Linked DNA regions of Homo sapiens. The protein of the gene in region 1 purifies or fractionates together with the protein of each later gene. This does not show direct contact. Each region holds a gene or a part of one and is shown in the gene's direction. Other genes may lie near its edges.

Region 1 (4,389 bases):
GGCACGGTGGCTCACGCCTGTAATCCCAGCACTTTGGGAGACTGAGGCAGGTGGATCACGAGGTCAAGAGATCAAAACCATCTTGGACAGCATGGTGAAACCCCGTCTCTACTAAAAATACAAAAACTTAGCCGGGCATGGTGGCACACACCTATAGTCCCAGCTACTCAGGAGGCTGAGGCAGGAGAATCGCTTGAACTCGGGAGGCGGAGGTTCCCGAGCCAAGATTGCACCACTGCATACCAGCCTGGCAACAGAGCAAGACTCAAAAATAAAGGCATGGACCGGGCGCGGTGGCTCACGCCTGTAATCCCAGCACTTTGGGAGGCCAAAGTGGGTGAATCATGAGGTCAGGAGTTTGAGACCAGCCTGGCCAACATGGTGAAACCCTATCTCTACTAAAAATACAAAAAATTAGCTCATTGTGGTGGCGGGCACCTATAATCCCAGCTAGTCGGGAGGCTGAGGTAGGAGAATTGCTTGAACCTGGGAGGCGGAAGTTGCAGTAAGCCGAGATCGCACCATTGCACTCCAGCCTGGGCAACAGAGTGACACTCTGTCTCAAAAAAAAAAAAAAAGAAAATATATGTATATATATTATATATATATATATAAATATAAAAGACTTGTATGAAAGAGAGTATCATATATCTCAATTTTTATTACATGCAAAAATAATATTTTAGCTGGGCATGGTGGCATGTGTCTGTAATCCCAGCACTTTCAGAGGCCGAGGCTGGGAGATCACTCGAGCTCAGGAGTTCAAGACTAGCCTGAGCAACAGAGTGAGACCTCGTCTCTACAAATACCAAAAAAAAAAAAAAAATTGGTTGGGCATGGTGGTACATGCCTGTAGTTATAGCTACTCAGGAAGCAGAGATGGGAAGATCCCTTGAGCCCAGTAGATCGAGGCTGCAGTGAGCCAAGACGGAACCACTGTACTTCAGTCTGCATGACAGAGTGAAATCCTGTCTCAGTAATAATTTCACCTTTTTTAATGTGACTAATATAGTATTTAAAAGTATGTATGTTTCTCTCATATTTCAATTGGGCAGCCCTAGAGAATTCTTATAAGAAACTTAGTTGTGTTTTCATGTTATTCTTGCTGCCAGTATGCTAATTATAATGTACATTCTTCATAATTTAGATTATAAGAAGACCAGTCTAGCACCTTATGTGAAAGTTTTTGAACATTTTCTTGAAAATCTGGATAAATCCCGAAAAGGAGAACTTCTTAAGAAGAGTGGTAAGACGCTATGCCTTTCCCTTCTATCTAGTTAGATCTTATTATTAGTAGAAATGAGCAATTTTTGAGTTCTAGTCTTTCTTTGCCCTCCTCCCAAAATTTACAGATTTATCTTACTATCCTTAATGTTTTGGAAATTGAGGTTCCTTAATTCAATTTAACACATAGTTATTAAACACATTCTAAGTATCAGGTCTATAAGGGAGACAAAGATGAATTAACATCATGCCTCCTTGCCCTTAAGAAGTACTAACTTGGCCAGGCACGGTGGCTCACGCCTGTAATCCCAGCACTTTGGGAGACCAAGGCAGTTGGATCACTTGAGGTCAGGAGTTCGAGACCAGCCTGGCCAACATGGTGAAACCCTGTTTCTACTAAAAATACAAAAAATTAGCTGGGCGTGGTGGCAGGCACCTGTAATCCCAGCTACTCAGGAGGCCGAGACATGAGAATCGCTTGAACCGGGGAGGCAGAGGTTGCAGTGAGCTGAGATCACACCATCGCACTCCAGCCTGGGCAACAGAGCAAGACTCCATCTCAAAAAAAAAAAAGAAGTACTAACTTAATACAAAAAAAAAAGTACAAAATGCTAAGAAAGAGATTTTATCTGATGGACTCTGAGATTTCATATGAAAATGGTGGTATCTGAACTCCTTTCAGTGTAGCTGCTGTAAGAATTCTAATCCCTAGCCGGGTGCAGTGGCTCACACCTGTAATCCCAGCACTTTGGGATGCTGAGGCAGGTGGATCGCCTGAGGTCAGGAGTTCAAAACAAGCCTAGCCAACATAGTAAAACCCCATCTCTACTAAAAATACAAAAAATTAGCTGGGTGTGGTGGTGGGAGCCTGTAATCCCAGCTACTAGGGAGGCTGAGGCAGGAGAATCACTTGAACCCAGGAGGCAGAGGTTGCAGTGAGCTGAAATTGTGCCATCGCACTCCAGCCTGGGCAACAAGAGCAAAACTCCGTCTCAAAAAAAAAAAAAAACCCTAGGCCGGACACGGTGGCTCACACCTGTAATCCTAGCACTTTGGGAGGCCAAAGCAGGTGGATCACCTGAGGTCAGGAGTTCAAGACCAGCCTGGCCAACACGGTGAAACCCCGTCTCTACTAAAAATACAAAAATTAGCCGGGCGTGGTATTGTGCGCCTGTAATCCCAGCTACTTGGGAGGCTGAGGCAGGAGAATCACTTGAAGCTGGGAGGTGGAGGTTGCAGTGAGCCAAGATCGCACCATTGCACTCCAGCCTGGGCAACAGAGCAAGACACTATCTCAAAAAAAAAAAAAATTTCTAATCCCTAATGCCAATATACTATACCATAAGGTATGAGAAGGATTTCCACAAGCAGAAATATGATAAGATAAAGGGTATGGAGGTGGAAAAAGGCCAAGGGTTGTTCATTCTTGAAGGAACATCAAGAGCAAAGACAGACAGGAAAGCATCCAGTTACTCTGGAAGCCATCAAGTAGTACAGCTAATCTAGTATATGGTGTGTCCAGAAGTGATGGGCTATAAATCCAAAGAAGCAAACTGAATGGCCTTGAATTCCAAGCTTATGTGTTTGGGCTTGGTTTTGGGCTTAATAGGAAGCTTTTAAAAGTTCTGAGGAAGGGAATGCCATGATTTGTAGTTTTTATCTAGAAAGATAAATCTGGGCAAGACAGGGACTAGAATAGAGCCCAAGAGGCCAACTGCGCTATTGCCACTAGAACAGTAGCACTGGAGATCTCCGAAAGGTGCAAATACTGGAACCATCCTTGAGACTTGCTAATGATTTAGAAGTGAAGAGATGAAAGATGGAAGGGAAAATGTTATAGAAGCCAGGGGAAAGAAAAGTGCAAGATTATCAAGTGTCAGGTACAGTAGGAAACTAATAAAATCCTGCTGCATATAATAACTGGAAAGAAACACAAAGAGGATAGCAGTGTCAAATGAAGGGTACTCTAAATGGGAGACATATGAGCATATGTATAAGCCAATATGAAAAAAATCAGCAGATTGAATATTATTCAAGAGATGAAGGCTACTCTAGAAAACTGTGACAATGTTATAGCAATACAAATTATCTTGCCACTTCATTTTTTATTTAAATATGTGATAGTTTAAGCAGTAGTGCCTAAGATAATGCTCTACTCAGTAGACACTCATATGTGTGATTATTGGATGAACAACAACTCTGAGCTTGGAAAGCCTGGTTGAAGCTGCCATTGCAACTGGCCGTATTAAGTCCTTTGTATCCTCACTGTTCCATACTAGCTCAGCCTATGATGTGGACTTCAGCAAATGTGTAAGCAAATCTTTGTGCATGATGTGTGTTAAATAGAAGCATTAGGCAAAAAAGAATGTAAAAGTAAATGGGCTTTGTTTTGTTTCCTTTGCTGTTCTTCCATATATTATCTATTCTATTTTAGATTTACAAAAAGATTTCTGAAGACAGAGCTCCTCAAACCATTGTGGATATCTTCTGCCTTCAACCACAGATCAAATACTTCAAGAGCCATTTAATAAATATGGCAGAACTATATATGTGTCTTAAACCTCAAAGTAAATTTTCCTTGAGAAATAATTTATGTTGAAAAGATTTCCTGGCCAAGTGCAGTGGCTCACACCCGTAATCCCAGCACTTTGGGAGGCCGAGGCAGGCGGATCACCTGAGGTCAGTAGTTCGAGACTAGCCTGGCCAACATGGTGAAACCCCCGTCTCTACTAAAACTACAAAAATCAGTCGGGTGTGGTGGTGCATACAGTAATCCTAGCTACTTGGGAGGCTGAGGCAGGAGAATTGCTTGAACCCAGGAGGCAGAGGTTGCAGTGAGCTGAGATCACAGCCACTGGGCGACAGAGCGAGACTCCATCTCAAAAAAGAAACAAAACAAAAAAAAAAGTAAGATTTCCTGAGACGACCAAGGAGAGTGTCAAGGTTCCTGGAAGGAGAAATAAAAGGAGGCATAAGTGGATTGCAGATAATTTTGTAAAATTCAATATTCTACAAGGATAATTCTAAGGCTTCTGATATAAATACCCAGTTCTACTAGTTGCCATATATAGAGGTAAGTGAGCAGTAATAGGACTGTCATCTCAGCTCACTTGATACGTCATATGTTTGGGTGAATGATGGTTTTGTCCTTAAGTTTTAGACATT
Region 2 (3,165 bases), on another chromosome or scaffold:
CCAAATATTGCTGATATTCATCCACTTTTTGACCCACAAAAGTGGTCATTTTAACCTACAATAAAACATCCTGGCTCAGTGGCTCATACCTGTAATCCCAGCACTTTGGGAGGCCCAGTTGGGGGGATTACTTAAGTCCAGGAGTCTGAGACCAGCCTGGGCCATATAGCAAGATTCTGTCTCTACAAAAAATTAAAAAATTAGCCATGCTTGTGGGCAAGCCCCTGTAGTCCCAGCCACTTGGGAGGCTGAGGTGGGAGGATCACTTGATCCCAGGAGGTGGAGGCTGCAGTGAACTATGACTGCACTGAACTCCAGCCTGGGCGACAGAGCGGGACCCTGACTCAAAAACAAAACAGTGGCCAGGTGCGGTGGCTCACGCCTGTAATCCCAGCACTTTGGGAGGCTGAGATGGGTGGATCACGAGGTCATGAGTTAGAGACCATCCTGGCCACCATGGTGAAACGTCGTCTCTATTAAAAATACAAAAATTAGCTGGGCATGGTGGCACGCACCTGTAGTCCCAGCTACTCGGGAGACTGAGGTGGGAGAATCACTTGATCCCAGGAGGTAGAGGCTGCAGTGAGCTATCATTGCACCACTGCACTCCAGCCTGGGCGACAGGTTGAGACCCTGTCTCAAAAACAAAACAAAGCAAAAACAACCCCAAAGTCTGGTTTCCTTATTAACCCCAAGTTCATGGTCCACCCGAAGCTTTTCAAATGTCAGTCCCGGCTCCCCGCGCCCCAGCTGCAGTGCTGGGCCCTATCGTCACCCTCGCCCTCCCGGCTCCCTGCGCCCCAGTGCCAGGTGCTGGGCCCAGTCCTCACCCTTGTCCTCCCGGCTGCCCAGCAGGCGGTGCGGGCGGCCAGACAGGCGGCTGACTTCACTCTGAAGGTGGAAGTGGAATGCAGCAGCCTGCAGGAGGCCGTGCAGGCAGCTGAGGCTGGTGCCGACCTTGTCCTGCTGGACAACTTCAAGCCAGAGGTAAGGTGGGCTCTGCCTCCGGGGAGGGATCTGTGGTGGGCTCTTACCTCCCCTTGGCTTGTGTCCCGCAGGAGCTGCACCCCACGGCCACCGTGCTGAAGGCCCAGTTCCCGAGTGTGGCTGTGGAAGCCAGTGGGGGCATCACCCTGGACAACCTCCCCCAGTTCTGCGGGCCGCACATAGACGTCATCTCCATGGGGATGCTGACCCAGGCGGCCCCAGCCCTTGATTTCTCCCTCAAGCTGTTTGCCAAAGAGGTGGCTCCAGTGCCCAAAATCCACTAGTCCTAAACCGGAAGAGGATGACACCGGCCATGGGTTAACGTGGCTCCTCAGGACCCTCTGGGTCACACATCTTTAGGGTCAGTGGCCAATGGGGCACATTTGGCACTAGCTTGAGCCCAACTCTGGCTCTGCCACCTGCTGCTCCTGTGACCTGTCAGGGCTGACTTCACCTCTGCTCATCTCAGTTTCCTAATCTGTAAAATGGGTCTAATAAAGGATCAACCACATGGGGTTCTGCGGTGATAATGAGCACATAGTGAGGGGTCAGCAAATGTCAGAAGTTACCTGGGACAGCCGGGCACGATGGCTCACACCTGTAATCCCAGCACTTTGGGAGGCTGAGGCGGGAAGATCACTTGAGTTCAGGAGTTTGAGACCAGCCTGGCCAACATGGTGAAACCCCATCTCTACCAAAAATAGAAGAATTAGCTGGGTGTGGTGGCACGCGCCTGTAATCCCAGCTACTTAGGAGGCTGAGGCAGGAGAATCGCTTGAACCCAGGAAGTGGAGGTTGCAGTGAGCTGATGGTGCCACTGCACTCCAGCCTGGGTGATAGAGCGAGACTCTGTCTCCAAAGAAGAAACAAAGGAAAGAAAGAGAGAAAGAGAGAGGGAGGGAGGGAGGGAGGGAAAGGAAGGATGGAAAGAAAGGAAGAAAGGCAGGCAAAAGCCCCAGACAGGCCAAAACCTTCATCCTTCATGCACCCAACCTGTACCAAACACCAGCATGGCCTGGCTGTGAGTGCACAGCAGATGGAGGTTTGCTGGGCAGAGACACTGGGCTGGCCTAGACACTGCCTTTGGTGATACCCTAAACCAAAGGGGCCAGTCCCACAGTAAGAAGGAGACCACTACTACTCCTGCTGCCCTCCTCCCCCCACCTTGCCTAGTTTACAAGACAGGAGGAAAGAGAGAAAGCAAAAAGTTAGAAAACAAAACAAAACAGAAGTAAGATAAATAGCCAGAAGACCTTGGCGACACCACCCGGCCCTGGTAGTTAAAAAAAAGTAACAATAATAATAATATCAACCCCTGACCTAAACTACTTGTGTTATCTGTAAATTCCAGACATTGTATGAAAAAGCATTGCAAAACTTTCTGCTCTGTTAGCTGATGCGTGTAGCCCCCAGTCACGTTCCCCGCTTGCTTGAGATATCATGACCCTTTCACGTGGACCCCTTAGAGTTGTAAGCCTTTAAAAAGGCCAAGAATTTCTTTTTCAGGGATCTCAGCTATTAAGATGCAAGTCTGCCAATGCTCCTGGCCAAATAAACCTCTTCCTTCTTTAATCCGGTGCCTGAGGAGTTTTGTCTGTGGCTCGTCCTGCTACAAGAGGACACAGCCCAGAGGTGCCACCTGCAGCTGCCCTGTCCCCTCTAATCCCAGCTCCACCCTGCCTGCTCCCGTCCTTCCTCCAGGGGGAACATGGACACGCTCAGATGAACCCCAGCTTCTTATGCCTGAACTGGGGAAACTGAAGCCCCATGGGACCAGGGGTTCCACTGGGCATCAAGGGAGGAAAGTTGAGCCCCGGGGTGATCTGGGAACTGGGATCTGGGATCTGGGCAGGCATTGGGGCCTGACAGAGCAGAAGTGAGGAGAGGGTACCAGGAGCTGCAAACTCGGTGCCTCCAGGACCTATTCGGATAAAATAAATGGGTGGAACTGGAATAAGACAAAGTGGGGGTGCGCTGTGGCCAACTGGAAAATGCTCGTTGCAGCCACAGCGTTCCATTAAAAAAGCGAAAGGAACCTGCCTGCCTGAGTCTTAAGCTCCCCCTAAACCCAGAAATGGGTTAGCCCTCCAGTATCCTCCAGCTCTGAGAGCTGGGGCGGGCACTCCATTACTGGGGGAACAGGAAATGGATCCTGGGCACTCTAGGGCAACACACGCC
Region 3 (4,411 bases), on another chromosome or scaffold:
GAACTAGGCAATTAGGGAATTAAGAACTTTCTCCACAATAGTGTTAAGCCCTGAGGTCAAACAACATATGGTGCAGTGCGTGAGCACCTAGGCAAGCTGAGTCCCCTAAGGGGACACAGAGCTTTCCTGTTAGGGCCTGTTGCAGCCACATTTAACAATCACCCCCTCTACAGAGAGAAGAGGGGCAATCAGGAGGCCCACTCTGGCCGGACCGCTCTGTGCTCTGTCCCAGGGGAGGGTGCCTGGGCAACGGGCTGTGTGTACGCTGGTCTCCGAGGCAAGAGGACCCCCAGGCCACTGTTAGAGACTAAGTTTCCCTGTCACTGTCCTTACAGGAGAGGATGGACTTGGTGCCCTCCAGTATTAGTGACAAGCATTTTTCTCATTGCAACGTAATAAACCAGTTTTCTGGTCGTAGACATCATTCACCTAGCACTTGTGCTAGGTGCTAGGGCACCCCACGTTTGACCAGCTGTGTCTGCCCTGAGAGAGGGGGCTGGCAGGGGGGGTGTTGACCCCAAAAGGCTGGGTAACGGAGAGGGGCCAGAAGGAACACCACCGGGTGAGAAGGGCCACCCCGAACAGACCGGTCCTCAGAGGCACCTGCCGGCCCTCCCCAGACAGCAGCCCTCCCTTTCAGCCTGCCCTGGCAGCTGCCTTTCCTACGGCTTCCACGAATTAAAGAACACACTCTGGTCATCATCTGTCCTCAAGGCAGGTAGGAATCCAAAAGGGAGAGCCGGGAGGTGGCGCGGAGGACGCCGGCTCTGCCCACGCCTGGGCAAGGTTGAGCTCCGTTCCCTCCGGGCTGCTCCCGCCTCCTGTCCGTGCAGGGCGCGTTTCCAGCCATCGCCGCCCAGCCGCCGCCGCACGCCGGGGAGAGATCGTCCGGGGTGAGCAGCGAGCCCGGGGACAGCTAGCCTGGGTCCTGTCCCTGGACCTACTCCCCCTGCAGCTGGCGGATCAGGCCCCCGGACCCTCACTCCACGGCGGGAATCAGAGCCGTCGGGCGGGGGATGCAGCGCCCAGACTGTGGCTCCCCCGCCTTCCCAAAGGAATCCCCCCATCTGCTCCATCCCTCTCGGGAAACGGCGAAATGCTGCCAACCGTCCGCTTAGCGCACCGCGGAGCGACTGAGCAGCCCCGCCGAGGCTCCGAGCCAAGATTTCTGCCCTAATAGTTTCTCCCTTCTTTCTGTCTGCTCCACCGCACCCACTAAATACGCGGCGCTCACACACGGACACGCGTGACACGCGGCGCTCACACACAGGCATGGGACGCTCACACGCGCGCGCGCGGGTCTCCGTCCCTGGCACCCCGCAGCAGGGGTGCAGCCGGGGGCAGGGGGAGCCGGGGGAGGGCGCAGGGGGCCGCGGGGACGCGAGCGGAGGGCTGGATGCCTGCCGGGCTCTCTCTCCGCCTTCCTCTTCCCTCCCAGTCCTGCCGAGCTGACGGCGTCCCGGATCACATGGAGCCCCCGCCCCACCCCAGCCCGCCCCCCGCCGCCAACGCCGGTGGCCCTTCCAGTCGCGTTACTACCCAGAGATTCATTTGTACCAGGGACGGAGGGAGAGAGGAGAGGGAGGAGGGGACACACACACACACACACACACACACACACACACACACACACACAGAGAGAGAGAGAGAGAGAGAGAGAGAGAGAGAGATTGTTCCAGCTGCTCTCGCTAGAGAAAGGGAGTGACCCAAGGGGCCGCGAGTGAAGGGACAGGATGGCTTAGGTACCTCTGCCCACAGGACCCCACAACAGGGAGAGGTTCCAGCTACAGCTCCTCCGTGGGGTCATGGCAGGGGCTGGGGAGTCCCCTCAAAAGCCCTGAGCCCCCCTGCACCGCCGCTAAGGGACACCCCAGAAGTTAGCATCAGTGGGACTCGGAAGCTCCGATCTCAACAAGTAAGTTGTCTTCTTTTCCTCCTCCATTTCTCCCCCAGCTCGCGGGTTCTGGAGGGCAGGATGACACCCTCAGGTGTCCATCACCTGGGCAGCAGGCTTTCACAGGGAACCTGCTAGACTGGGAGCCAGGGGGGATAAGGAAAAGCTTAGGGCAGGTCCAAGTTTAGGAAATTGGAGATCTCCGTGGCTGCAGGCTGCCCTGTGCGTTGGGAGCCCAGCCATAAACACCTTCACTTCTGGCACTAGACCAGGGCTACCTGGGGGTGCCCCAGATCTCCCAGCAGTGGTTTGAGAGGCAACAGTGGCCAGGAGTGGGTGGGGTGTGGAGGACATTTTTCACCTGGTAGGACTCTTCCTTCAAATGGGAGCAGGGAGGGCCAGGATGGGGGGCGGTGCCCCCCTCAGCCTTAGATCCCCAGCCTAATCTTGCTTTCTCTTTTAAGTGTGGCCAAACTGGAAACACGGCCTTGTGATTTCTGCCCCCCTCGCTGCCCAAGTCACTTCCTGCGTACCTCCCTATCTCCTTTTAAAGAGCTTTCAAATGGTTCAGAAAGGCCAGGGGTCAAGCCTGTGAGGACAGAGGATAGGGAACAGAGAAGGCCGGCCTTGTCATTGCTCCCCTTCTCTTCAAGTCAGTGCTTCTCCCTGCAGAGCTGTTGGCCCCCTGGTTTTATCTGTGCCTTCCCTCAAACAGGGCTCTCCAACCCCAGGGGCTGTGGAGGGCCTCAGGTCCGGCCCCCAAAGTTCTAGGGCCTACCCTGAACATCAGGGTGAGCAACACCAGCCCAAAACCTGTTCCAGGAGCCTTTTCAAACACCAGAAGAAGATCAACAGGAACACGCCAAGTATTTTACTCTGTTTCAATCCTTTTAATAAGCTGAGATTATCATCCTCATTCTACAGGTGAAAAATTGAAGCCCAGAGAGGCTGTGCAATTTGCCTCAGGTGCACAGCTCATAAAGGGAGATTCTCTCCTATATCTGACTCCAAAATGTGCCTCGTTTTCATCAAAAGCCATATGGTTTATCGGGCTTTCTGGTTCTCAAAGCACTTTTCCATGTGAGGAAAAGGCTAATATTTATGAAACCAAGGTGCCGAGCTATATACGTTTACATGAGTTCATCTTGACACCAGTCCTGTGGGGCAGAGCTTATTTCTTCTGTTTTATAGATGAGAGTAAGGGTAACAGAATTCCAGGCACTAAGTGGCAGCAGCACTGCTATCTCCAAAACTCTTGTCCTCTGGCTTTAAATCCAGGGTCTTTCCACTAACAAAAGCTAATTCTGAAAGCTGCTCTTGTCTTTCCACATCCCTGCTTTTCCTCAAAGCCAGGTGTAAATTGCATCATCTGGCTGAATGAGGCGCTCAGGCTTCCTGGAATCTGAGGAACGAACAGGGCAGAGCAAATGATGTGGGAGTTAGAGGCCCATGGTTGGACTCTGGCATAAAGAGTTTGGTCAGCTTGGCTGGTATTTTAAACTATCTATGGACCCCACCTGAGATGGCACCATTCTGCCTAGAGGCATAAGGCCTTCAGTGGGAGGCCTGGGGCACAGCGTATGTGCTTCTTGGAAGAGCAGCAGCAGGGCCACCATTGAAAGACAGGAAACAACACATAGAGAAATTGCTGGCTCAGGAGGCTGAGGTAAGGGGATTACTTGAGCCCAGGAGTTCAAGACCAACTGGGGCAACATAGCAAGACCCCATCTCAAAAAAAAAAGAAATAAAAAAGAAAAAGAAAGGATAGAAAATTTGCCTATACATTCCACAAAGCACAAGGATTGTCCCCAGAACAACGTTCTAGACCTACTACCTAGCTCTCCAACAGAAAGGGAACCAGCCACTCAGGCATGGCTGTTTTCTGGCCTCTCCAAAAGCTGCTATAAACTGCCGGCATTACTCACAGGCAGCATTTTTTAAGTAGCCTGCCTGTGCTCTATCCAGTGAGCAGTTCAGCTAAAGGAGGAGCCAAGGGTGAGGGGGGGGGTCAAAGCGAACCTGGGCCACATTCACTCTGCCCAGGGCTGTCCCCAAAGCTTAGCTGTCTTCTCTGGGATGAAGTCAGATCTTAGTGGGGTTCCCCACCATGGCTTCCCTGGAGTCTGCTGGCAAGTCCTGAGCAGTGCAGAGCTCTTTGTCTGTGGGTCCAGCAGAGACACGTGTGTGGCCCTGTCACAGCAGTACTCAGCCTCGCTGTCCCTGGTGCCAAGCAAAATCCCTTTGGGGCTTTCTGCAAGCACCTGACTGGGTTTCTTGTCCAGGAATTTGGGAGACTCTGAAGGCTGCTCTAGTCATCCGTGATGAAGTAAACCCCCAAGGAGGGAAGAAACGACTAGAATGCCCATTCTCTGGTTTCCATTTCCCCTTCAAATGACCTGATTCTTCCTGCCTGCGGTGGGCGAAGCCACAAACAGGTGTCCTGTGCTTTCATGTACTTGAAAACTGCATCCACTTCTGCATTGTTTTTTTTTTTTTTCTTGTTCAACAACCATTCAT

What was found.
Region 2: the proteins of PRIM1 (region 1) and QPRT purify together in Homo sapiens (co-immunoprecipitation; one large-scale study listed by IntAct). This does not show direct contact.
Region 3: the proteins of PRIM1 (region 1) and KCNJ5 purify together in Homo sapiens (affinity purification with mass spectrometry; one large-scale study listed by BioGRID and IntAct). This does not show direct contact.

The regions. Positions count from the first base shown.
Region 1 is NC_000012.12:56,731,004-56,735,392, reverse strand, and holds the end of PRIM1 (DNA primase small subunit), read left to right. Parts: intron 1-1,147; coding exon 1,148-1,246; intron 1,247-3,658; coding exon 3,659-3,678; 3' UTR 3,679-3,813; downstream 3,814-4,389. UniProt on the Homo sapiens protein: Catalytic subunit of the DNA primase complex and component of the DNA polymerase alpha complex (also known as the alpha DNA polymerase-primase complex - primosome/replisome) which play an essential role in the initiation of DNA synthesis.
Region 2 is NC_000016.10:29,696,141-29,699,305, forward strand, and holds the end of QPRT (nicotinate-nucleotide pyrophosphorylase [carboxylating]), read left to right. Parts: intron 1-852; coding exon of another isoform or gene 853-855; coding exon 856-987; intron 988-1,058; coding exon 1,059-1,271; 3' UTR 1,272-2,559; downstream 2,560-3,165. UniProt on the Homo sapiens protein: Involved in the catabolism of quinolinic acid (QA).
Region 3 is NC_000011.10:128,889,807-128,894,217, forward strand, and holds the start of KCNJ5 (G protein-activated inward rectifier potassium channel 4), read left to right. Parts: upstream 1-1,549; 5' UTR 1,550-1,915; intron 1,916-4,411. UniProt on the Homo sapiens protein: Inward rectifier potassium channels are characterized by a greater tendency to allow potassium to flow into the cell rather than out of it.